Homo sapiens: one gene and its partners. The protein of the gene in region 1 purifies or fractionates together with the protein of each later gene. This does not show direct contact. Each region holds a gene or a part of one and is shown on either strand. Other genes may lie near its edges. The genes, in order: VRK1, HADHA, EXOSC7, CPVL, PCF11, SMARCA1 and DPYSL5.

Region 1 (3,500 bases):
TTCAAATCAAAAAGACTGAGAATACTTGATGACTATTTTCACATATTTGAAAGGATGTTACGTGGAAGAGGGATTCAGCCTGTTCCACATTTCTCCAAAAGGCAGAAGTGAGTAGAAGAAATTAAGTAGACTTCCACTCAATGTAAGAAAGAATTTTCTAATGGTCAAAACTTTAATAAAAATAGGATAGGCTGTCTCTAGAGCAGTGGTTCTCAACCAGAGATGATTTTGTCTCTGTAGCCAGAGATGCCACTAAACATCCCACAGTGCAGAGAACAAACAGTGACCCATGTAAAATGTCAACAGTCCCATGGTTGAGAAATTCTGCCCTAGAGATAGTGAGTTCTCTGTCGTTGGAGGCATTTCATCATAGACCAGACCATGTGATGATGTCACAAGAATGGTGGGCCAGGAATGGTGGCTTGTCATTCCAGCTACTCAGGAGGAGGATCATTTGCTCCCAGGAAATCAAGGTGGCAGTGAGCTATGATCGCACCACTGCACTCCAGCCTGGTTGACAGAGCGAGAGGAAGGGAAGGAGGGAAGGAAGGGAGGGAGGGAGGGAGGGGAATGATGGGAAGTGAGAGTGAATTGAAAAAAGTTTTGTTTCAGATACCTCTCCAGAGAAAAATACCTTCAGGTATATCAAAGTGAAAATGATGATGATGACAAACATTTATTGAACACTTACTGTGGGCCAGACATTACACCAAATGACTCATGTATACAGTTTGCAGTTAATTCAACAACTCTAAGATAGGTATTATTTTACCTTGATTTGATGCTAAATTGAATTGCTCTAATGTCACACAGCAGTCAATATTTGAACTAGATCTACCTGACCCAATTTTATATGTCACTGTCCAAAGCATAAACATCAAATGACTTTCAAAGCTTTCACACTCTGGAAAAGAAATGAACAAGCACATATTCCACAAGTATCAGGACAATGTCTGAACAGGTTTGTACTCACTGTAAACCTAGCTGGCTAGGAGAAAGAGGAAAGGATTATTTGAAGTAGTCCTGTGATGAAGAAGAGAACAATTATCCTGATTGTCCCCAATTGCCTACTTCTGTAAGAGCCAAGAAGCTCTTATATACCCATGGAGGATGGGATTAATGATGACATCCTTTTATCCATAGGCGTGAAAGCTCAGAATGGACAGACGTTTGAACATCCCCGACTGGGAATCCTGCCCTTAACAAATACACTAGATGCAGATACATGGTTTCTTGGCTGCCTATACTCACGCCCATCTGTCAGGATGGCAGTATGCCTGCTCACATGTTGGTCAAACTGTCACTAGGGCATAGGTGCCAAGCAATGATAGTTTTAAATGGGCAGCTTGCATAGCACTATAAGAGCTTGCTCTTCTGCAGAAAAAAAAAAAAAAAAAGAAAAATTCTCTGTGATAATACTGAAGGGCTGCAAATCACAAGTGAAATATTCTTGGTCAATCTCAACATTTCAGTGGAAAAAAAGATCTAGACAAGTAGAAAAGAATCAGAATAAGGAAGTTAAATCAAACAGAACAGGTACTTTAAAAACATGTGAGATGTTGCATGAAAGCTTTTAACACTGCCCTTCTTTCATTAACATGTGTCAATGGTAACCTCTTACACTGTAAAATCCTTGCCTCAACAAGTCATCACTGATTTTTTTCTTAATGGAATGATACATTTTTCCATGTTCTAAATAGGAACAGAAATGCATTGATTTCTAGTAGTTCGACACTATACAGGTTCTATTTGTTGACTGATTATTTTTAAAATGACTTAAGTCTAATCTACAGCCATGATAATCTTTTAAATGCACAAAAGAAAGCAGAAACCAAAGAGATCCCCACAGATAAACGGCAGGGGAGGGGAAGAGTATAATTTGCATGGAGAAAGAAACTAACAACTGAAGTAGGCACTAACAAAATGGAAAGTGAGTACTTTTGCTCATGAATTTAATAGGACTCGAGGGCAAAAACATAGATCTGTTATCTTTCACATCCCCCTGACTACAAGCAAAATGTTCCTATACTACATCTAGGTTTCTAGTGTATCCTTTAATATCTCACATGAAATATATAATGTCTTTACTGTCCGGAAATTCTTCCCTAAGACCAAAACCTTAAAGCTGCAATTTGAGCCATTTGTTCTTATGCAGTCCTCAGGATTTTGAAGAACAGCTGGTCATCATCATTCTCTGTATAGTTCTTCACATACAAGTATCAGGACATACTGATTAAATAACCCCTGAGTCTCCTCTTTGCCATGATAAATAAATCTGATCCCATTAACTTTTCCTCATTGGACCGATTTATGAACTCTTCATGTTTTTATCATTTCAGTTGCTCAACGCTTGGACTCTTTTCAGGCCTGGTAAGAAATGTCACCCACATCAACAATGAGCCAACGGAAACTACTCTTTTTCCCAAATGTACAACTTAATAACAGTAGCATAAATACGAAACAGTTTGGAAGTCCTGCTGACTTCTCCATATCCATCACTGAGGACAGCAGCAAAAGTTTGAAATCTACCACTGCCTTCTAGAAAATACTAGGAATTTATAACATTCTGAAGTAACACCACTTTTTTAGCTTTCTGGCAGATATTTGTAAAACAAAGTTGTAAGTCAAGGGTCATGATTATATCCTGTTCTTCCTACCAACGTATCACTGCCACAAATGGTCCTAAAACAACTTCTCTTTAATACCATTTCTATCATACCATTTTCCTGATTAAGAATATACAGCACCTTCCTAATAGCCAATGAAACTGATTACAAATGCTTCAATCTAGCCAGAAGTTTATATACTCTTTCTTTTTCACGAACCAATGATCCTTCCTTTACTTCTCTACTTCCCTTCACTTGCATGACTCCCAAAAATAGCCAGTTCTTACTTATTTTCTCTAGAACAGATCTTTGCCCATGTTATTCTCTAAAATGTTTTCCCACTTTTTCCAGACTCCAGCCATGTTATACCTTCAATAAACCTGTATTTATTAATAGTTAATTGCTCATTCATTTCTTCCTGTCTTTGTTTTGATACCTAATTTACAGTATATGGCCAACTGATTTTTGATTTTTAAAACTTATTGAATGGAGAAAGGGTAGACTTTTCAACAAATGGTTTTGGAACAACTGGACATCCATGGACAAAAGGAAAAGAAAAATGTACCAAGATCTAAAGCTCACATCCTGTGCAAAAATGAAACCAAAAAGGATCACGGATCTAAATGTAAGACATATAAGGGTAAAACAGAAGAAAAAATGAGAACAACCTCCTGACCTAGAGTTAGGCAGAGAGTTCTAAGATAGGCACTAAAAACACGATCCATATATTGAGAAGTTGGACTTTAACAAAATTTGAAACTTTTTTGCTGCTAAAGACACTGTTAAGAGAATGAAAAGACAAGCCAGAGACTGAGAGAATATATTTACAAATCATATATTTGGCAAAGGATTTTGTATACACAACATATAAAGAATGCTCTAAAATCAGTAAGA
Region 2 (3,500 bases), on another chromosome or scaffold:
GCAAATATTTTTGATACACATATATGCATATTCATTCTTTCAATAAATCCTTATGACATTCCTATGAAGGAAAGCACATTATTATTATTAGAAAATTAACACCATAAACCTTGTTTTCTTTTGTGCTCAATTGAGATCAACTTCCCTGCAAAGAGTATTTCTGTTGAGCCTTGTTTTCACTGAGGAATCTACAGTGCCAGAAGCTATAAGGTTCAGTGGGCCCTTGAGTTGACATTAAGATTGCTCTGCAGCATCCAGGTCTGACTGTCCTTCCCTTCTCCTTGGAATTCAAAGCCTGCTGAGCCTCTTTTGGTTCCATACAACACAGCAGTGAGAACATCCAAATCAGACAATGAGGGAAAAGGTCTGCCTCTTATATTTGTAATGAAATATTAATATGACTCATGGTTTTGAAAAACTGTTAAGATGGTATTATGTGGAAAAGGAACCAATTAAACCATAAGCTCCAGAAATGCAAGACATGCATCTTAGTTATCTTTATCCTTCCTCAGAGACTAACAAAGGACCTTGATCAATAATTCTGTGGAATTAGGCCAGGCATGGTGGTTCATGCCTGTAGTCCTAGCACTTTGGGAGGCTGAGGCGGGAGGATTACCTGAGGTCGGGAGTTCAAGACCAGCCTGGCCAACATGGCGAAACTCCATCTCTACTAAAAAATATAAAAAATTAGCTGGGTGCAGTGGTGCACGCCTGTAATTCCAGCTACTGGGGAGGCTGAGGCAGGAGAATCGCTTGAACCTGGGAGGAGAAGGTTGCAGTGAGCTGAGATCACACCACTGCACTCTAGCCTGGGCTACAGAGCAAGATTTTGTCTCAAAAAAAAAAAAAAAAAAAAATCTGTGGAATTGAAAAAATAAGTACCAGGAATAAAGTCTGTCACTGATCCTGTACACTCATATTTTATTTGGTTTTTTAATTCTACAATGAATGCCCATATTATGCATTTTATACAAGAAAACAGATCTAAAGAGGGCATATAGCTTCACAAAGGGGATGTTAGACTCACCATTTTGGGCAGCCTTTGTGTGCCTCCTGCTCCTGGTAAGGCCCCCAGCAAAACTTCAGGGGTACCTAATACTGTTTTTCTGTCTTTTGTTGCTATTCTGTATTGGCATGAAATGGCAACCTTTGAACAAATGAAAGAAAATTAGAATGTTAGAAAATGTAACTTAGTAGCAACTTGAGATGGATAAGGGTCTAAAGATTATTTATAAAGCAGGAATGTGCTCACAGAATAAACTGAAATTCCTTAGGCTGGCATTTAATAATTTCTAGAATTTACCTTTTTAGCCTTTTTTTCATACTTTTCCTCTAATTTACTAACCTCTTTTTGGGCCGTAGATCTCCTAAAAAATCTACTGAAAGCTAGAGAAGCTCTCAAGAGAAAAATGCACACACAATTTTATATGGACCCCAGGTTAAAAAGCCCCGGACTCTCCAATCAAGCACGTCTACTTACAGTGTCCTAGTTGGCTTTGCTTTTGCCTTTGCTCACACCATACCATATGCGGAATTGTTTTTCCCTCCATATTCTGGTTAATCAAATTCTGCTTATAGTTTAGGACCAGGCACAGGTTTTCTTAATTAATATAGTCATGTGTCACATAATGAGGGGGATATGTTCTGAGAAATGTACCATTAGGAAATTTTGTTGTTGTGTGAACATCGCAGAGTGTACTTACACAAACCCAGATGGCAGAGCCTGCTACACATCTAGGCTATATGGGATAGCCTATTGCTCCTAGTCCAGCAGTCCCCAACCTTTTTGACGCCAGGGACAGGTTTTGTGAAAGGCAATTTTTCCAAGAACTGGGGGTGGGGTGGGAGGGAGTGGTTTCAGGATGAAACTGTTCCACTTCAAATCATCAGGCAATAGAGGCCAATGGAGTGCGCAACCTGGATCCCTCTCATGTGCAGTTCACAACAGGGTTCCAGCTCTTATGAGAATCTAATGCCACTGTTGATATGACAGGAGGCGGAACTCAGGTGGTAATGTTCACTCGCCCACTGCTCACCTCCTGCTGTGGGGCCCAGTTCCTAACAGGCTATGGCCTGGGAACTGGGGACCCCTGTCCTAAGGGGCTACAAACCTGGACTGCATGTGACTATTGAATACTGTAGGCAACTGTGGCACAGTGATAAGCATTTCTGTATCTAAACACAGAAAAGGTATAGAAAAATGTAGTGTTACAGTCTTATAGAACCACTGCTGTATGTGCAATTGGTCATTGAAACGTTATGTGGTAAATGACTGCATATGTGAAAGTGTCTGGCACAGAGTTCAGCATGTGAAAAGTGCTCAATGAATGTTTCCTTTTCCCCTTCTTTTCTTTCCTACATGTTCGGGTCTAGTAAGCATCTCTTCTCTCAAATCTTCTATTATTTACCGTCTTTACTACTGACAAAGCACTTATATTATGCTTTATGTGTCTCAACCAGACTTAAGTAGCTTAAGAGCCTAGATCACACTTCTGAATCTTTGCCCTGCAAACTTGAACAAGATTTTTACAGCTGAAAAGGACATTAGAGATGCAGTTCAAATGAAAACATCACACCTTCATTTACTTGCTTTGTGCCACTTGCTCTGTGTCATGTGGATTAAGGATTAACACCTATCCAGAAGTTTGATAACTAAAAACAAAGCTATTTAGGCACAGTGGCTCACACCTGTAATCCCAGCACTTTGGGAGGCCGAGGCGGGAGGATCACCTGAGGTCAGGAGTTTGAGACCAGCCTGGCCAACATGGTGAAACCCCATCTCTACTAAAAATACAAAAATTAGCTGGGCATGGTGATGCACACCTGTAATCCCAGCTACTGGGGAGGCTGAAGCAGGAGAATTGTTTGAAGCCAGGAGGCAGAGGTTGCAGTGAGCCAAGATCGTGCCATTGCTCTCCAGCCTGGGAGACAAGAGCAAAATTCCGTCTCAAAGCAAAAAACAAAAAACAAAGCGGATTCTCCTCCAGAAACTTTTTCCAGGCAAAGCAGTAGCCTAAGGGTTTACAGCTGATGAATGCCACCAATGAGTTGGACAGTGTCTCAATAACTTTAGAATATCTATACCTCAAGTCCTCCTCCCAGGCAGGATCCATTGATGGCAGCCACAATAGGCTTTGTGGACTTTTCAAGTTTCTCAACTATTCTCTGTGCTTCTTGTGATAGCTGTGTTACTTCTTGAAGGGTCTTGCAAGCGGCTAACATGCTGCATTATCCATAAAAGTAGAGAACAGAGAAAAAGATAAAACTATAATTTATTTGGTTCAATACTTATTCACTATACACTTATCCTATCATGCATCAATATTTGATGACAAATCTTCAAATAGAAGGTTAAGAATGATTTTGCTTCAAATAGCACAATAGCAGCAACATCATTTCTCCATAAAGAGTGTTAAACTTCTGGATCCATGAGACCATCCCGGCTAACACGGTGAAACCCCGTCTCTACTAAAAATACAAAAAATTAGCTGGGCATAGTG
Region 3 (2,364 bases), on another chromosome or scaffold:
CACTGCACTCCAGCCTGGGCGATAGTGTGAGACTCCATCTCAAAAAAAAAAAGGGCCTTTGGAAAGATTTTCCCATAACATTAGAAAAAGAAAAAAAAGTCTGAATCTGTCAAACAGGGGTACTGATTATTCATATACATGAGGGTGGGGAGAGAGGACAACAAGAGGAGATGAGATGGACAGGATGCCAGGACTTGAGAGGGCCTTGACGCCTCTGAATCCAGATGCAGGAAAGCAACTGCAGAGGCTAGGGGTGGCAGCCTGCACAACTACCCCCAAGGCTCTCAGCTCCACCAAGTCATTTTCCAGATTGCTGCATCCCTGTGTGAGATAAACAGTAAGACAGGGCCACAGAGCTATAGTCCCCTGTCCAGAGTTAGCAGACCTCACTCCCCAAACCTGAGGGGAGGACAAAGCTCAGCTCACTGAACAGAGCTCTGGTTCTGCCATCTATGACAGCCAGGGCAGATCTGGTTTATAAGGCTGACATTGCACAGTGGCTGGGAGCAGGGGCTCTGGACGCACACAGTCTTGGCTTAAATCCTAGCTCCAGTATTTATGAGCAGGGAGGCCTGTAGGCAAGCTGCTTATCCTCTGTGTGCCTCAGTTTCCTCATCTGTAAAAATGAGGACAATAATAATAGTTACCTCACAGGTTGTTGAGGACTAAATGATATATTTAAAGCAGTGAAAACAGTATCTGGCACATAGTACGCACACAATAAACTCCAGCTATTTGTTTACTGTGCTTGTTGTTGCTGTTTAAAGAAATTCTCATAAACTCTCCTGGGAGGGGGAAGAGTACCTTCTAAAACAAGGTTTGACAGTCCCTTGCCTAGAGGACTTTGGTAGAATTTATGCAGCATTAAGTCTGGAGAAATTTGAACTCAGGGTGCTTCATGGAGCACAGAGAATAAGAGCTGCCATTAGCTGAGAACTGATGACATATCAGGCACTGTGACATGTGCTTCTCCTCTACACCTCACATCATCCTAATAACAACCTCAGCAGTGTCTGGGCAGATATTACTATTATCAGTCCCACTTTGCAGATGAGGGGGACTATGGCCCAGAGCCAGGTTTGCAGCCAGGGCAGTACACCCTCACAGCCCATGGTTGGGAACTCCATGCTATATACAGTGCTCATTTTGGCCTTTTAAATAACATGATAAAGAGAGAAAGTAGATGTCATGTTCTTGGATTCTTCAGTATGAAGTCATTGTTTCTAAACACAAAAGAAGAGTGCTTGCTATTAAGCAATGATCTCTGGGCATGTGTGGTGATATAGAGGTTGCAAGAAAGTATGAATAATCAGATCCTGCTAACTCTGTTCCTGGAAGTTCAGTCAGTCAATCAGTCAGAAAGGTGAGGTGGATATAGGGGAAAGAAGGTCTGGGAAACAGGTGAGCAGGACCCTGTCCCTGCCCTGCGGGGCTTCCAGGCCAGTGAGGTGACAGACATGTGGGGCAAACAGTACAGAGAACTGTAGAAGCGCCTTGATGGCTCTGCTAGGGATGAGGGCAACCCAACCCAACTCCAGTGGGTCAGATTTCTTACCATCCCTGCTTGTCTCCATTTAAACACTTCTAGAGCTGTAACGAATTTGGGAGACAGCCACAGTTCAGCCCGTGCTTCCACCTTTACTCACCCACTTCTAGGGACAGGAAGCAGTGAGCCAAGAATTCTATTCCCTCATCAAGTCACAAAGGCCTGCACTTTTGGAGTTACGAGTGGCTCTTTACATTATGAAAGTCCAACAGTCTTATTTAGACACATAGAAATGAGATGGGGGGTACTTACTGAGGACAATTAATGGTTACTGGTAGGCTCCTTACCTCCCAGTCCAGAGTATCCACCCCCACAACCCCCCTTGATTAGGTCAGCAGACCCCTGGCTCAAACCAGCTGTTCCCAAATCTCCAAGTTTGGGGTCAAGGCTGTGAATGGGGAGAATCCCCACGGTATGACCAAGGGAGCAGGAAGCAGCAGGCACCCCGGCCAGGTCCCTGCACCTTCCTCAGAACTAAGGCCTCACCTCCATCATCTCGAAGATGCTCTCTGGGTCCAGGCTGCCCTTCCCCACTTTCCTCATGCACGTCACAACTCCCTTGCTGGTCACCGACACCAGCAAGCTGGCCAGCGAGCAGGCCTCCTCCTGAAGAGTAGCATCCACCACATGCCGATAGCCAATCTGCAAAGGCAGGGTGCGTGGCACACGGTGGGTCACGCAGGCCCCAGAGTCCCACCCCTGATGGCCTCGTGGTGGGAATCTCTACACCAGGCAAAAGTATTTGCACTGGTCATTCCAGGTCTTATTTTAGATTCTGCTCACGAGGAAAACAGCTGAGGGATTGTTCAACAATTCTC
Region 4 (3,500 bases), on another chromosome or scaffold:
AGGTGTAACCCTAAAACCAATAAATCAAGAAACAGATTAGGCAGATTACTTGGAAATTTGGAATTAAAGGCTAGAACAGACAGGTAAAAGTATGAGAGGAGGTCTCAGAGATAAGAGAAGGATGGGGAGGTGGGGAGAAGAAGACTAAAATTTTTTATCATGAGAATTATAACATTACTTTTATTATATTGACAAAAATCAAAAGTAGTTAAGAAGAACTCAAAAACTAAACTTATTATCTCCTTCCCTAAACTTGTCCTTACTTCCCTATTTTTCATCTTGGTTGGAAATACTCCCATCAACTCAAGTACTAAAGCCAGAAATCCAGGATGTATTCTTTATTTATCCATTTTTCTCTGGCCCTGCATTCCCACAGCCAATCAATCACCAACTGAATCTCCTAGATGTTCTTCAAATTCACCTTCACCTCTCTAAATCTACTCTCATGGCCTAATCCAGTTCTTTATTGTGACTTGCCTGGACTACTGCAAACCTCCAAACTAGTTTCCAACCTTGACTTTAACTCCTAATTAAATGAATCCCTCTATACTTCCCTCATGTGCTGCTGTCTCTCCTATTGAGGTGGCATCACTGTCTGGGGTAAATACCTGGGGTTCGCCATCTCATGCCAAGATTAAGGACATGGACACGCACAAGGAGTGAGTTTAGGAGCAGAGGTTTAGTAGGCAAAAGAAAGAGAAAGGAGAACACTTCTCTCTCTTGCAAGAGAGGGGCATCTGAATGGGAAATCTGGCCCTCCGTGGAGTGCACCAGATTTTATAGACAGGCTTGAGGAGGTGGTGTCTGATTTATATAGACAAAGATTGGCCCACAGATTGGCTGGACCAGGTGTGACATTTACATAGCATGCAGGGAAGCTGGCCACCTCACCCTAACCTTATTAAGCAAATGGGCTTTCCACTTGGCCAGCATTACTGTCTGTTCCCTACTGTACACATGGTTGGAAAGGAAAAGGGAAGACGGAGCTGCCATTTTGAACATGCCTAGCCCAGGTAGCCTTTTCCTATTGGCACAACTGCCGGCATTCACCTGTGCAAGCTTCCAGCTTACTTGTCTATGTGTGTAGCTCAATTTTATAGGCAGGCTGCTCTTTGTTAGAAAAGAAAATGATTTGGGGTCTGCTTTTCATTAAAAGGAAAACCTTACCGAGGACTCCTGTACTCTCACTATCTGCCCAAATAATTTCTTCTTAACGCCTATATCACTATTTTGGGAGGTCATAGAATTTATAGCATTTAAAAATTTGTTATGCAGCAATAGATAACCAATACAGAGGCAGGAGAAAAGCATAAGTAGGAAGTGGAGAAATAGGATGGAATCTAGAGAAGTCAGTAGAGAGCTGATCAGGGAGAGTTTTCTAGATATGCTAAGAATCTTTATCCTCTAGTGACTAGGAACTACTGAAGGGCTTGATAATTTGAAAAGAGTACTATGAACATCAATGTAAGGATGGACTTAAGCCAGAAAGACAGCAGGCAGGAAGGCCAGTTAATATGTTTCACAATAATCTAGAATAAAGATGACAGGAGTTTGAACTAGGGCTGGAAACTAGTAATAATAGCGTGGAGAGGGCAGACTTAAAAATAATTAGAAGGTTGACTGGGAGCAGTGGCTCACGCCTGTAATCCCAGCACTTTGGGAGGCCAAGGTGGGTAAGATCACCAGAGGTCAGGAGTTCCAGACCAGCCTGGCCAACATGACAAAACCCTGTCTCTACAAAAAAATACAAAAATTAGCCAGGCTTGGTGGTATGTGCCTGTAATCCCAGCTATTCAGGAGGCTGAGGTGGGAGGATCACTTGAACACCGGAGGCAGAGGTTGCAGTGATCCAAGACCACGCTGCTGCACTCCAGCCTGGGCAAAAGAGCGAGACTACGTCTCCAAATAATAATAATAAGAAGAAGAAGAAGAAAGTAAAACTGGAAGAAACTTGTGATTATATATTAGAGTTGAAATAGAACAAAGAATCTAGGATGATCCCAGATGTGACTTAGATGGCTGGGTGGGTGGACAGTGGTGCCATTAACCGAGAAAGAGAGAGACCCAGATCCCTGGGAGTGAAAATCAGCTCTGCTGCTAATCAGTCTAAGATGCTCCCAACAGAACATTAACAATGTTTCTATATACCCAAGGCCACTCTGCAGCTGCAGTATGATGGACAGTCCTTTTTTCTGAGCAACTGCTGTATTCTTACCAATGATAGCGCTTTGTCCCTCCCATCTCCTGAACAGAGACTGCTGAGAGTCTAAGTTCCTGAGCTGCCACGGGCACTTGGCAGCAGCTAATCCAGCGGGTACCTCTTCCCTGATCCCTCCTTCGACTCATTCAGCACAAGGCCAAATATTTCAGAGGCCTCTTCCCACTTCTCCCAACCTTTGGGTATGTGTCCTCCTTTGCTGGACATAATGCTAACACACCTAACTTTGTGTCATTACACATGTATTTCTCATATTCTCTGCTGAGTGGGTTTCAACTTCCATCCCACTTGAAAGGTGTGCTGAGAAAAGGTAGAAGGAGACTAAAAAATAGGGAGAAAAGAGACAATAAAGCCAGACCGTAGAGGATGGCTGCGGGCTCCCTATAGTACATTACATTCTAAGACGAGCAGGAAAGGCTCTGCCACAATTCCTGAATGTACAAGGTCAAAAGTTCCAGCCTTCACTTTGCCAACAGGTATATCCTTGGGCAAGCCAATTCACTTCTCCCCTTGGACTTCAGTTCCTTCATTTGTAAATTCTGGAGATTAGATGGACTATATAATTCCCAAAATCCCTTTCAGCTTGGAATGTCTAAGATTCTAAAAATGCAGCCAAGGAGATCAGGCTAAAACTGCTTCAGGCTTTGAGTCACAGGGATGATTCACGCAGGCTACCTTAATGAAAGAACTTCCACATCTGCTCTAGGTGCCCTGAACCTACACATTTCTGTCAGTGTTCGTAAGACAACCTAAGAAACCTAAGAAAGGCTATTCTTGGGGGGGCAGGGGGGCTACAACACTGATTAAATTACATGTTTTTTAAGCACAGATTTTTTAAAAATCCTATTAAAATTCTAAATCAGTGGCTTCCAGCAATTTTTCTCTGAAACAGACGTCTCGGATTTTGCAGACACCAATGTTCAGGCACACGTGTACACAAGAATGGTGGAAAGAGTCATGGTTTTACATGGAGTGTGCAGTCTGCCAGCTCAGAAATCTCCTGTGTCCCAACGGCACAGGCGGTTCATTCTCCTGCCAGCCAAGTTAATTCTACCAACATGCCAATAGTTAGAAGGGGAGAAAACAAAACAAAACAAATTATTTCCACTTGACTTGCTGATTGCTAATAATATTCTTCATCAAGTAACCCAGGCAGGAACACTTTTCATCTTCAGAATTAGCTATGGCTGCCATTTCCCCTTTTGTCAAATACAGGGAGATATTTCCCACGGTCTGCACATGACTCAGAATGGCTTCATCTTTATTTCACGTTCTACATTTC
Region 5 (4,266 bases), on another chromosome or scaffold:
CTCTCTTAAACACCAAAGTCTGTTAAGTAGGCTAATTTTTTATTGTACAAGTGAAGTCCTTTTATGTATTATTTTTCGCTACTGCTCTCTCTTGGGAGGAGTCAAATTAAGTGTGAATCCTTTAAGTTTAGTAACGCAGAGAAGCTAAAGAATAAGGACACAAACATTCACCTCCAAAACACAAAACCAGGCCAGTTTGCTACCAAATAACGGAAATCCCTCCCCTCACCCTCGATCCCAACCCAGATTAAGATAGATCCCCCAAAGTGACTTTTACATCTTTTCCTCAACCTGGCTTTACAAAAATAACCAGGAAACGTGTGCCCCCAAAATTTCAGCTGTCTTTTACCAGCAAAGAGCTCATCTATTTTCATCACTGTGTAGCGATATACAAACACAAGTTTTATGTGGTCACTATATTCAGCATTTAGTTTTCGGTTCTCGAAGGTCTTCCGGATCCATTAAAAACCAGCAAGGTTCTTTGAGTGACAACCTGAGCTGCTAAATATTAGGCGCTGTGGAATATTAAATCCCAAGATACGAGGTAATTAGATTTTAAAAATCAATGTTTTTGCCTTAAAAACACAAGTGCTTTAAGGCATTTAATGTCAAGTTAAGCCTTCAACAAGGCAAAAACTAAGTTTTCATGTCCAAGATGTTTGTGGTATCAATAAAAAGCATGTTGAGTATGACGAATGCTTCCTTTTTAAATCTCACACTTAAAAAAAAAAGCTGTTTTACATACACTTTCACAGGAAAAAGTGAACGAAAACTTGTATCTTAGCTGTCAGACTGAGCATGATAAACTTGTTGAGGTCCTTAAAAGGAAAAAGAAAAAAAACCCTTCCTTTTCGTCCTCTTTAAATTATGAAAGGACCACCTGAAACCGTGTATCTTGTGAAGAGGTTTACCCAAAAGAGTGGATGGAACCTAAAGAAGAATGAACCCAAGTCACTTAAAGACTTTTGTTTAAAACACACAACCACGTAGATAAAAATAAGTCTTGGAAACAGATTCTACACCTTACAAAGGTAAATAAAAAAGACAAATACATATTTTATATGTTTTATTCACAAATTTTATAATACCAGTCACACATTTCAAAACCATTTATTAGAGTCAGACCACTCAAGTTTTACACTAGACAGAAACCGTCTCTAAACAATATATTGGTGGTTGTTGTTAAAGTGGCCTTTAAAAAGGGGTTCACTCTGCTAAAAGGAGGCTCATCCTGATAATTGCAATCACTAACAACTAGAAAAAACTAAACCGTGAGTACAAGCTTGAAAAATAAAATGTAGCACTGGGACGCTATTAAAACTCATTGTAACTAAGTTGAACAGTAACTTTACTTAAATGACATATCGCTCCCATATGAATCCACAGAAGAGGAGGACTACAGGGAAATATAAGGTGGCAGAGGACCACTTCTGTCAAGGGGTAAAGAAAAACACTCCTTCGCTATCAGGGAAGGGAGAAAAAGAGAAAAGGAAGAGGAGGAGGGACTGAACTTTTCAGAGAAACTGCAAGTACTTGTTACCCTCTGGGCCAGTTCTCCACCTACAGGTTGGATAAGATCTCCTCCCCCCACCCAAACCCCACCCTCAACCCCACTTGCCCCTATTTTGGGACAAATTAGACCCTCCAATAGGAGAATAAAAGTTTTATCTAGCCGCCCCCACCCCAAAATGGGGCTGACGGGAGTGAGCAGCTGCCTGGCTGGCAGGGAATGGATTCTCCTCTCTTCCCTTTCGCATCATGTGCTTTTCAGGCGCCATGTTGGGCTCCTAACAGGCGGCTGCTCCACTCGGGGCCAAATCCCTATTCCCACCCACCAACAGCTCGCTCCCAGGTCCCCCTTCACCTCCTTCCAACCCACAGAACACAATTACCAAAAAGGGTGCTTGGGGAAAATGGGAGACCCACTCTCCCACTTCCCAGGGAATTAAAATGGCTTATGTTAACTCTTACTTCCCCAAACCACAAACTGCCTTTAAGTCTCCCCCACCCCAAAGGGCTCTATTCAAAGCGTGTGTGTGTCGGGATATACAATGCGGTGGCCTAAAAAGGGAGTTGGAAAGCGGAAGTGGGACTCCACCCTTTATCCTCCCCACTCCCTCCCCCCCAGAGGCCCATGCTCGAAGCCTGGGCCAAAGACCGAGCCTGAGTTGGAGGGGGGTGGGGGGGTTGGAGAGAAGGAACACTGTCCCCCTTGGGATGGAAGCGAGACCTGGGATGAGGCTGACACTAAAATCAGGGAGTATTAGAAGTAATAGGAGGCTGCGGGGTGTATAAAAACCTTGGCGGTTTGGGCCTCGATGAGAGAGACGATCTCCTTGGCGAAGGGCAGGTTCTCCTCGGCTAGAATGGTCAGCATATTGATGTGCGGCTTGCTATTGAAGGTCAGGTCTTCGAGCGATGACTGATAATCCCGACAGGCGTCCTCCCGGGCCCCCGCAGCACCGGCCTCGGCCGGCGTCTGCTCTGACATTGCGCCGCGGCCCCCCTCCGAGGTCCGCTGCAGCTGAAGCTGAAGCCGCTCTGGATACCCCGCCTCCCTTCCGACTCCTCTTCCTCTCCCCGGCTCTCTCGCGGCTCCGGCTTCACCACATGCTGACCGCGGAGGGGGGATGGGGGACGACACAGGGGGAACCTCGGGTATGAAACGCCGCCGTCTCGCGGGTGATCTCCGTCCACTTCCAGCCGCCACAGAAGCTTCTTTCTCCACAGACACAAAATGGCGGCGGCAGTGGCGGCTCCAGCTCCGAAAATGTCTGTGTTCCCAACCGCTGCGTCGTGCGAAATGAACTAGGGGAGGGGAAATGTGCGGTAAAAGGGCGGGGCCACTGATAAAACCAGGCGTGATTGGCTGTCCCGGCAACGTCACGAGCCCCGCCCCCGGCCCTTCCGCAGGACGCCCTGGCACCGCCTTCTTCTCCGGCCTCTACCCGGACTTTCGCAACATCTACTGCTCGGAGGCGCACTGGAAAAGACGGCCCTTCTCATTGGCCGATTCATAAGGGACTGTTCGGTCATTTGTTACCATAACAACCCATTCAGGGAAGCCAATAGGCCTGGGAAGGCAGTTCCCGCGGCCCAACCCAACCACTTTGAGAAGAAGACTCAGCCGTCCCCTCTTCGTCCCTCCCTCTAGCTTCCCAGCCACTGAGCGGGCCTGTCAATCATCTTTCCTCCCGCCTGCCCCGTAGCTGCTACCGACGGTGGGGGTTGGAGGGAGCGGGGGTTGGAGGGAGCGGAGGCTTTCTGCCGCCGCACCCCCTCTCCCTTAGCGTCTCAGGTGCTCTGGAGAGCCAGGGCGGGTCCAGCTGCCCCTCTGGGAACTGGGAAGTGGGAGGGAGGTGCCCAATTTACCCGGAACTTCGGAAAGCACTGCTGGAGAGTTTCTTCCAGCACGCCGCTTCCCACACCCACAAAAATACCTAGGCGAGCTTGCCTGACTTGAATCCCCAGGAAAATGCCTTTTATTTAGAGATTAAGTGTGAAAGGCTTTTTCCTTGGGGGTTTGGAGGAGCTCTTTAAGGAGCCCACTATGAGCTCTAGGAAGAGTTTTTCACAACAGCCACACCCAGCTGGACCGTAATATCTCCACTGTGAATCTGCATTTCAGAACCTCCTTAGCATACACTATTTGGGGCACGTAGGAAAACACACACGCGCATGCACTTTTGTTTTAAACTTGTGGGGCTGTCTTCCCAGGTTGGAAATGATGCTCGTAAAACACACAAAGCTTTCAAATAGTTCACCGTGGAGCTGCGACATAACACAAACCAAACGTAATTTTTTCATTGAGTAGCGATATTGACCTAAATATAAGCTTTTAAAATGTGTCAATTACGGGCTGGGCGCGGTGGCTCACGCCTGTAATCCCAGCACTTTGGGAGGCCGAGGCGGGCGGATCACGAGATCAAGAGATCGAGACCACCCTGGCCAACATGGTGAAACCCCGTCTCTACTAAAAATACAAAAATTAGCTGGGCGTGGTGGCGTGCGCCTATAGTAGTCCCAGCTACTCGGGAGGCAGAGGCAGGAGAACCGCTTGAACCCGGGAGGTGGAGGTTGCAGTGAGCCGAGATCACGCCACTGTACTCCAGGCTGGTGACAGCGAGAGTCTGTCTCAAAAAAAAAAAAGTGTCAATTACCTAAAATTGCTTTTCCATTGCCTTCCGTAGGCTACTAGGCATTTGAGAGATAATTTGTTGCTCCCCAGAAGAAATTGCTCTTAAAAAATAAACTTAGCCGGGCATG
Region 6 (3,500 bases), on another chromosome or scaffold:
TCTGATATTTTACCTCCTAGATATATTTCAGCTCTCACTCAAAACGTTTTCATTATTATTGTTTTTAAATAATGTAAATGAATTATTACTTGCTTAGTTAAATTTGTGTATGTAATTGTTCTAAATTTGTATCTATCGATGTAAGCTTTTAAAGATTAGGAACTTCATTTATATAATATACTTTCTACAGAAATTCACACAGTACAGTATATGTATAGATGCTTACATATTTTTGAAGATGGAAGAATATTATAAAGTATATTTATAAGGAATATTATAAAGTGTGTGAAGATTTTCTATATGTATTTTAAATGTTTTTATTTGTTTCTTAAGGACCCTGATGGTCTAATTTTATTTTTCTCTTTTTCTTCTATCCCTTTATCAATAAAAAATAAAGGAAGCAATAGAGGCTTTTAATGCTCCTAATAGTAGCAAATTCATCTTTATGCTAAGTACCAGGGCTGGAGGTCTCGGAATTAACCTGGCAAGTGCTGATGTGGTTATACTATATGATTCAGACTGGAACCCACAGGTTGATCTACAAGCTATGGTTAGTAATCTTTAATGGTGTCAGAAATTTATCATAGCTCTGAATACTATTGCTATTTACACACATAAAGGTCATTTATGATAAAAAGGTAACAATTTTTGAGAGATTTTATAGAAGTTACAGTAGATTATCCTGGAAAACACAGTTGCTATGCTAATTGCAAAAACAAAAGAAATGAAAGCGAACAACAAACACACCCCAGATCCAACTTATAGCATTTATGTGTTGATTTTGGTTTTTTTCATGAAATAGAAATGTCAGTTTTTTCCCATTCCTACAGATTGAAGAGGACACATAAATTTGTTTTAATGAAAAGGATTAAAAAACAATCTCTTGTTATTATTCTGTTCAACAACTAAATATATTAAAATCCTTAGTACTGAAATTAAGAGAGGTAGGATTTTAACTTTCATAAAAAACAATTTGGGAGAGAAGGCAAAAAGGTAAGAAAGGAATATATTCCAGAAAAACACTTGCTACTTAATAATGATACCATGCAAAAGCTATTCTACACTTAAAAACATTTTTTTTTAGGGAGCAAAGTTTCTCTGACCTTTCATCATGACACTACAGGTAACCCCTTTGATATTTTGGTGTCATTTATTGAACTAGAGCTACAACTTCTCTCAATGTGACTCACATTTTCAGATAAAGAAATATAATTTAGAAGTAAAAAGATGCAAAATAACTTCTTAGGTTTTGAATATATAGCTATGGATAAGTGTCTTTTTGGGAGCAATGAAAAGTCATATGCCAATGAGGTATAACTTAGAAGGCTTTCCTTTTATAATAGAGAATTGAAAGGGATTGACCACTGGGACATTCCAAAATCAATATGCTTTGGCGTAATTATTATTGCATTACGATGGTATTGAACTACCTGTTTGATATGACTAACTAGGAGTAAGCCCCAGTAAGTTACAGTGTTACTGAACTGGAAAATCTAATAGTGATAGCACTTCATTTCCGTAGAAGTCTTAGTGTGCATCCCATCTTTCAGGATTTGCTGGTTCAGGTTTAATGTAAATATGTGCAGGGGATTGCATTCTGTTTGAAAAATGTGCTGTGTTGAAACTTTGTTACTAGGCTCTAGTGTTTTTATATTTAGTACAAGGCCTGTTTTGAACTTACATTTTTTTTTTCTCTACCACCCTCCTCCCTTTACCTATTTGCTCTAGCAGCTTCTGTGTTTTAAAAATACTCTCCCTAGATGGTTTTATACCACTAGAAGTTCGCCACCTGTCACCTGTACCAACTATAAACCATAGGACCAGTCCTAGGCTACTGAATAGTAAGGATAGTAATATCCCATTAATTTTTATAACTCTTTACTGCATATCCCTCAGTAAGCAGAAAGAAGTGCCTGATGATGAAATAAAGCAGACTTTTGCCACCATAGCAACCCTAACTACTTAATAAAATTCCTTGCTAGTTTCGAAGATGTTTATATTTAGTGGCTTAAAGTTACTTAGTAACTCAATCCAGAAACTTTCAGCTCCCTCTTTTATTCATCTTACAGGTGCTTTGCCCTTTGTCCTGGAAGTTTCCCATTAATGGTACAATATAATATTTGCAGATTTCTTTGTTCCCAGTGGTCTTTAGATATTCTCAATATTCATCATGCTCTTTTCCAAAGTGTCAGATCTAGAGAAAAATAACTAATTTTATTTTTAGAATTTTATAGCATATGATGGCTCTAAATTTTATCCAGAATATCCAATATCTTACATTAGAACTCTTTCTACTAGGATCGAGCACATCGTATTGGTCAGAAGAAACCAGTACGTGTATTCCGTCTCATCACTGACAACACTGTTGAAGAGAGGATTGTAGAAAGAGCTGAGATAAAACTGAGACTCGATTCAATTGTTATACAACAAGGTATTTATACATAGAAACTTAATTAGGTGTTTTTTGTAAAACACATGTAGTTTTCTTCAAAGGAGATTACTTTTAATAAAAGTTGACCAAAATTTGAAAACTTAGAGGAAAAATTGAAACATCACTGTGTATCCCATGAGTCTGTACAATTGTTATGTATCACCTAAAAATAAAAGGAAAAAATTTAAAAATGCTAATTGAGGCTGGGTGAGGTAGGTCATGCCTGTAATCCCAGCACTTTGGGAGGCCGAGGCGGGTGGATCACCTGAGATCAGGAGTTTGAGACCAGCCTGGCCAACATGGTGAATCCCTGTCTCTACTAAAAATACAAAAAATTAGCCGGGTGTGGTGGCGTGCACCAGTAGTCCCAGCTACTCAGGAGGCTGAGGCAGGAGAATTGCTTGAACCTGGGAGGTGGAGGTTGCAGTGAGCCGAGATCGCGCCACTGCACTCCGCCTTGGGCGACAGAGCAAGACACTGTCTCAAAAACAAACAAACAAACAAACAAACGAACAAAAAATGCTAATTGAAATCTTCTGAATTGAAACCCTGGCATTTGATATATGGAGTAGTTGAACATCACTAGCTTATTCTTGAATGTCAGTAGCATGCTTTTTGAAGTACCTGAGATTATTTAGCAGATAAAATGGCTACTTTTAAATTTTTGAAAACATATTAGAGGGTACCTTTTCATATAGAGAAGTTTGATCTGAAAACAGAGTTTGAACATGAAAAAAAGTTTCTGTCCTTCTGGGTTTTAACTGAGTTTTACAGAAGGGAATTTATATAGAAATAGAAAGTATGCTAGAAGAAAAACTTGTAGGGTTTATTAAACAAATAACCTTAATGCTCACTAATTTTTTGTTCTTTAAAGCTTTATGTGTGGTTAAATGTGATAATGTCTGATTAGAATGATTATGCCTTCTTTGGAATATGATTGATTGAATATGTACAATTTCAATTTTTATCATTAGGAAGACTCATTGACCAACAGTCTAACAAGCTGGCAAAAGAGGAAATGTTACAAATGATACGGCATGGAGCCACCCATGTTTTTGCTTCTAAAGAG
Region 7 (3,500 bases), on another chromosome or scaffold:
TCTAACAGCTGGAAGCTGAAGCCACTCATCGTGTTATCACCATTGCAAACAGGGTAAGTCCCCCGATGTCCACTGTGGGATTAGAAACCAACCTTGGCCAGGCACGGTGCTGATGTCTGTAATCCCAGCACTTTGGGAGGCCGAGGTGCGTGGATCACCTGAGGTTAAGAGTTTGAGACCAGCCTGGCCAACATGGTGAAACCCCATTGCTACTAAAAATACAAAAATTAGCTGGGCGTGGTGGCGTGCACCTGTAATCCCAGCTACTCAGGAGGCTGAGGCAGGAGAATTGCTTGAACCCAGGAGGCGGAGGTTGCAGTGAGCCAAGATCGTGCCAACTGCAATCTGTCCTGGGTGACTGAGCGAGACTCTGTCAAAAAAAAAAAAAAAAAAAGAAAGAAAAGAAAAGAAAGAAAGGAAAGAAAGAAAGAAAGAAAGAAAGAAAGAAAGAAAAGAAAAAAGAAAGAGAAAGAAAGAAAAGAAAAAAGAAAGAGAAAGAAAGAAAGAGAAAGAAAGAAAGAAAGAAAGAAAGAAAGAAAGAAAGAAAGAAAGAAAGAAAGAAAGAAAGAAAGAAAGAAAAGAAAGAAAGAAAGAAAGAAAGAAAACCAACCTCTACGATGCAGCCCCATTCTGCTCTGGGTGCCAGCACCATGTCTTGCCCACAGGAACCCAGAGCTGTTTGCTGACTGAGCGCTGTCATGCCCACCATCCTTGCATTCACCCTTCTCACCACCAGCTTTCCATTCCACCCCGCCGAGCCTGCTGAAGCTCAGTTCATTGCTCACGTGTAAACTCAGTCCAGCTCCTAAACTCTACATCCTCCTAATGTGATAAGCAAAGAGAACAGAATAACATCTGGGGAAACAGAATTTCCCAATTGCACTTTAGAGCTCTGGCCGCTGGACAAGGACATTGTTTCACTGTCATGACAATAGTTATTTATCAATTACTTCCTGGTGGAACTTAACCCAGAATAAGGAAAGACCCAAACAACAAAAAGTCAGTTCCTTGCCTTTTAGCTCAAGCATATGCTCAGAGGAGTTAAGCCATGGACCGTGGTTGCACAGCTTAGTAGAGAAAAAGCTAACCAGTATTACAGTCCAGGTGTCCGTTCGCAAGGTCAGCCTTCTCTTGCCTAGACTCTGAACCCTAACCCCCTTGTATTTTGTTCATCTCCAGGGTGCATTCTGTCTACTGATAAGCAGCCTTCAGACAGCAGGCATCGTAATTTTAGATACAGAATACACGACTAACTCTAGGTCATCACGTTTATGAACAGGAAATTAAAATAGGAAAAAGAGTTCCCCCCTTTTAAATTACAGTCATGGTTGTCAGATGGGAGAAAATGCGAGGTTCAGACTTGACGGTCTTGAACTTCACAGGCTGGGCTTCCCGGTGGGCTCTGGTGCTGGAGGCTGTTCTCTGCCTCCCCGTATCATGCAGTTCCTGCAACCTTGCCCTGACTGCCAGCCCTGCATTCTCCGCTTAAGGACTGTCACCTTGAGGGTGGGGTTGAGTGACGCAGGGGGAGGCGCTGGTGCCAGGGCTGACTTTGCCAGGGTTATTCTGATGCTTGTGAAGTTTATGGGTCAACCCTCCCTACTTCCCACTGTTTCTTGTGTTTAGACTCACTGTCCAATCTACCTGGTCAACGTGTCCAGTATCTCGGCTGGTGACGTTATCGCAGCTGCTAAGATGCAAGGTGAGTCCATAGACTTGGCTGGACAGAGCAGGTCAAGTGGAGGGACTGGAGATGGATGGGGCCCATTAGCCGTGCTCACTCCTGGCCCCGGCTCCTGAAACCAGGACCTGAGCCAGCCCTTCCCTTTCATCTGCCACCGTCTTCCTCAGAGCTGCCCTGTGCTATGCTGGCTTTAGTCTGCTAGAACATGAGCTTTTTCTTCTGCAAATTTGTATGCATAACAGCTTTACGGAAGTGTCTGTCACTTCTCCTGGGTCTGGTAACATTTTCCAAGTTTTAAACCCACTCATTAATTAGTGTCTTTTTGGCCTCATAGATTTTACTAGCAGTTGCCTTGGCAACTAACATAAAATGCTGGACCAGTTTCAGTGGGCATTTCAGGGGCTGTTTGGGAAGTCCCTAAAGAAAGAACAGTGTGTGGGCCCAGCTTCCTTTTAGCCTCCTGGAACCCTGTGTATGAGTCCGAGGGGCACTTGTATGGCTTCTGTTGCGGATCGCCTGGCAGTACCTAAAGGCTTGCAGATGCTTGGAGTCCAGCCCCGCCCCAGGTGCTGGTGAGGGCCTGGCAGCAGGAGAAACAAAGTCACAGTCACAAGCCTGGGGAGACAGATCAGAAGCAAGGGCATCTCAGCCTTCAACTATAATCGATCAGAAGCAAGGGCATCCTGGCCTTCAACTCTATCGCCCTCTAGATCCCGCCACCTGCCTCTCCCCTCACTGAAGCCCCTTGGAGGGTCTCGCCTAGACTGTCGTCCCAGCCTGGTGACTGCTCCCACCTCCTGTCTCCCTGTCCTCCAGCCCTGCTACGGCCCTCCCTGTCCTACCACAACCGTTCTCTTGAAGCTGCTCACAGCAACTGCCTGTCCAGAAAACAGTCTAGACTGCTCTTTAGCGTGGCATTCGTGGCCCTGCATGCCTGTTCACCCACCGTCAAGCTCCATCTGCCAACAGCACCCTGCACACACCAGTGCTCTGGTCATCTGGCCAAACCAGACTCCTCAAAGTGCCGCTTGGTCCTGCTGGGCCTCGGTGCCCATGTCCCTCTGTCCTCCTTGCCTAAGTCAGCAGAATAGGGAGGCTCTCTGGGCTTGAACCCAGCTGTGCTCTTAAAAGCCCTGTGAGCTTGGGCAGGTCCCTTCCTGTCTCTGACCTCAGCTCCTTCACCTGTAAAATGAGAGGCACACACCAGCGATCGCTCAGGTTCGGTGGCTTCCTGGTTATGGTTCTGACCTTTCTTCTTCCAGGGAAGGTTGTGCTGGCGGAGACCACCACTGCACATGCCACGCTGACAGGCTTACACTACTACCACCAGGACTGGTCCCACGCGGCTGCCTATGTCACGGTGCCTCCCCTGAGACTGGACACCAACACCTCAACCTACCTCATGAGCCTGCTGGCCAAGTAAGGCGTTTCAGCAGCACATTGCAGGGATGTGTACATCTTTAGGAAGACGTCATAGAGGGCCCAGGAAACAAATCTGAGCTAGGTTTGATTTCATTGTGCCCATAGGATCATTGTGCTTTTCTTACCTTCTCTGAGCCCATCAGATAATTGCCATCCTATTGGGATTTTATGACCGCTTGATATGGAGTGAGATCTTCTGAAGTATAAGAGTGAAGAGCACATATAGAACTGTGAACCGTGGTTATTCGGAATTTCAAAGGACATTGATCTCTTACTCTAAAGCCCAGTGGGGAGCTGCAGAACGTGGCCTGTGACTTATCCTAGAATGTAGGGGTCCTTTCTGTTTCTTTTGTTCACCTCTCCCTCTTCTTGTTGGCTCCCGTGTGCCCCTTGT

The links.
Region 2: the proteins of VRK1 (region 1) and HADHA purify together in Homo sapiens (affinity purification with mass spectrometry, with the first as the bait; one large-scale study listed by BioGRID). This does not show direct contact.
Region 3: the proteins of VRK1 (region 1) and EXOSC7 purify together in Homo sapiens (affinity purification with mass spectrometry, with the first as the bait; one large-scale study listed by BioGRID). This does not show direct contact.
Region 4: the proteins of VRK1 (region 1) and CPVL purify together in Homo sapiens (affinity purification with mass spectrometry; one large-scale study listed by BioGRID and IntAct). This does not show direct contact.
Region 5: the proteins of VRK1 (region 1) and PCF11 purify together in Homo sapiens (affinity purification with mass spectrometry, with the first as the bait; one large-scale study listed by BioGRID). This does not show direct contact.
Region 6: the proteins of VRK1 (region 1) and SMARCA1 purify together in Homo sapiens (affinity purification with mass spectrometry; one large-scale study listed by BioGRID and IntAct). This does not show direct contact.
Region 7: the proteins of VRK1 (region 1) and DPYSL5 purify together in Homo sapiens (affinity purification with mass spectrometry, with the first as the bait; one large-scale study listed by BioGRID). This does not show direct contact.

Annotation. Positions count from the first base shown.
Region 1 is NC_000014.9:96,803,882-96,807,381, reverse strand, and holds part of VRK1 (serine/threonine-protein kinase VRK1), read right to left. Parts: intron 1,070-3,500; exon of another isoform or gene 1-1,069. UniProt on the Homo sapiens protein: Serine/threonine kinase involved in the regulation of key cellular processes including the cell cycle, nuclear condensation, transcription regulation, and DNA damage response.
Region 2 is NC_000002.12:26,231,133-26,234,632, forward strand, and holds part of HADHA (trifunctional enzyme subunit alpha, mitochondrial precursor), read right to left. Parts: intron 3,224-3,500; coding exon 3,085-3,223; intron 1,148-3,084; coding exon 1,028-1,147; intron 1-1,027. UniProt on the Homo sapiens protein: Mitochondrial trifunctional enzyme catalyzes the last three of the four reactions of the mitochondrial beta-oxidation pathway.
Region 3 is NC_000003.12:45,007,244-45,009,607, reverse strand, and holds part of EXOSC7 (exosome complex component RRP42), read right to left. Parts: intron 2,189-2,364; coding exon 2,033-2,188; intron 1-2,032. UniProt on the Homo sapiens protein: Non-catalytic component of the RNA exosome complex which has 3'->5' exoribonuclease activity and participates in a multitude of cellular RNA processing and degradation events.
Region 4 is NC_000007.14:29,136,538-29,140,037, forward strand, and holds part of CPVL (probable serine carboxypeptidase CPVL isoform b precursor), read right to left. Parts: intron 1-3,500. UniProt on the Homo sapiens protein: May be involved in the digestion of phagocytosed particles in the lysosome, participation in an inflammatory protease cascade, and trimming of peptides for antigen presentation.
Region 5 is NC_000011.10:83,155,665-83,159,930, reverse strand, and holds the start of PCF11 (pre-mRNA cleavage complex 2 protein Pcf11), read right to left. Parts: upstream 2,801-4,266; 5' UTR 2,492-2,800; coding exon 2,300-2,491; intron 1-2,299. UniProt on the Homo sapiens protein: Component of pre-mRNA cleavage complex II, which promotes transcription termination by RNA polymerase II.
Region 6 is NC_000023.11:129,488,991-129,492,490, reverse strand, and holds part of SMARCA1 (SWI/SNF-related matrix-associated actin-dependent regulator of chromatin subfamily A member 1), read left to right. Parts: intron 1-397; coding exon 398-550; intron 551-2,298; coding exon 2,299-2,431; intron 2,432-3,405; coding exon 3,406-3,500.
Region 7 is NC_000002.12:26,931,632-26,935,131, forward strand, and holds part of DPYSL5 (dihydropyrimidinase-related protein 5), read left to right. Parts: intron 1-8; coding exon 9-53; intron 54-1,626; coding exon 1,627-1,702; intron 1,703-2,946; coding exon 2,947-3,103; intron 3,104-3,500. UniProt on the Homo sapiens protein: Involved in the negative regulation of dendrite outgrowth.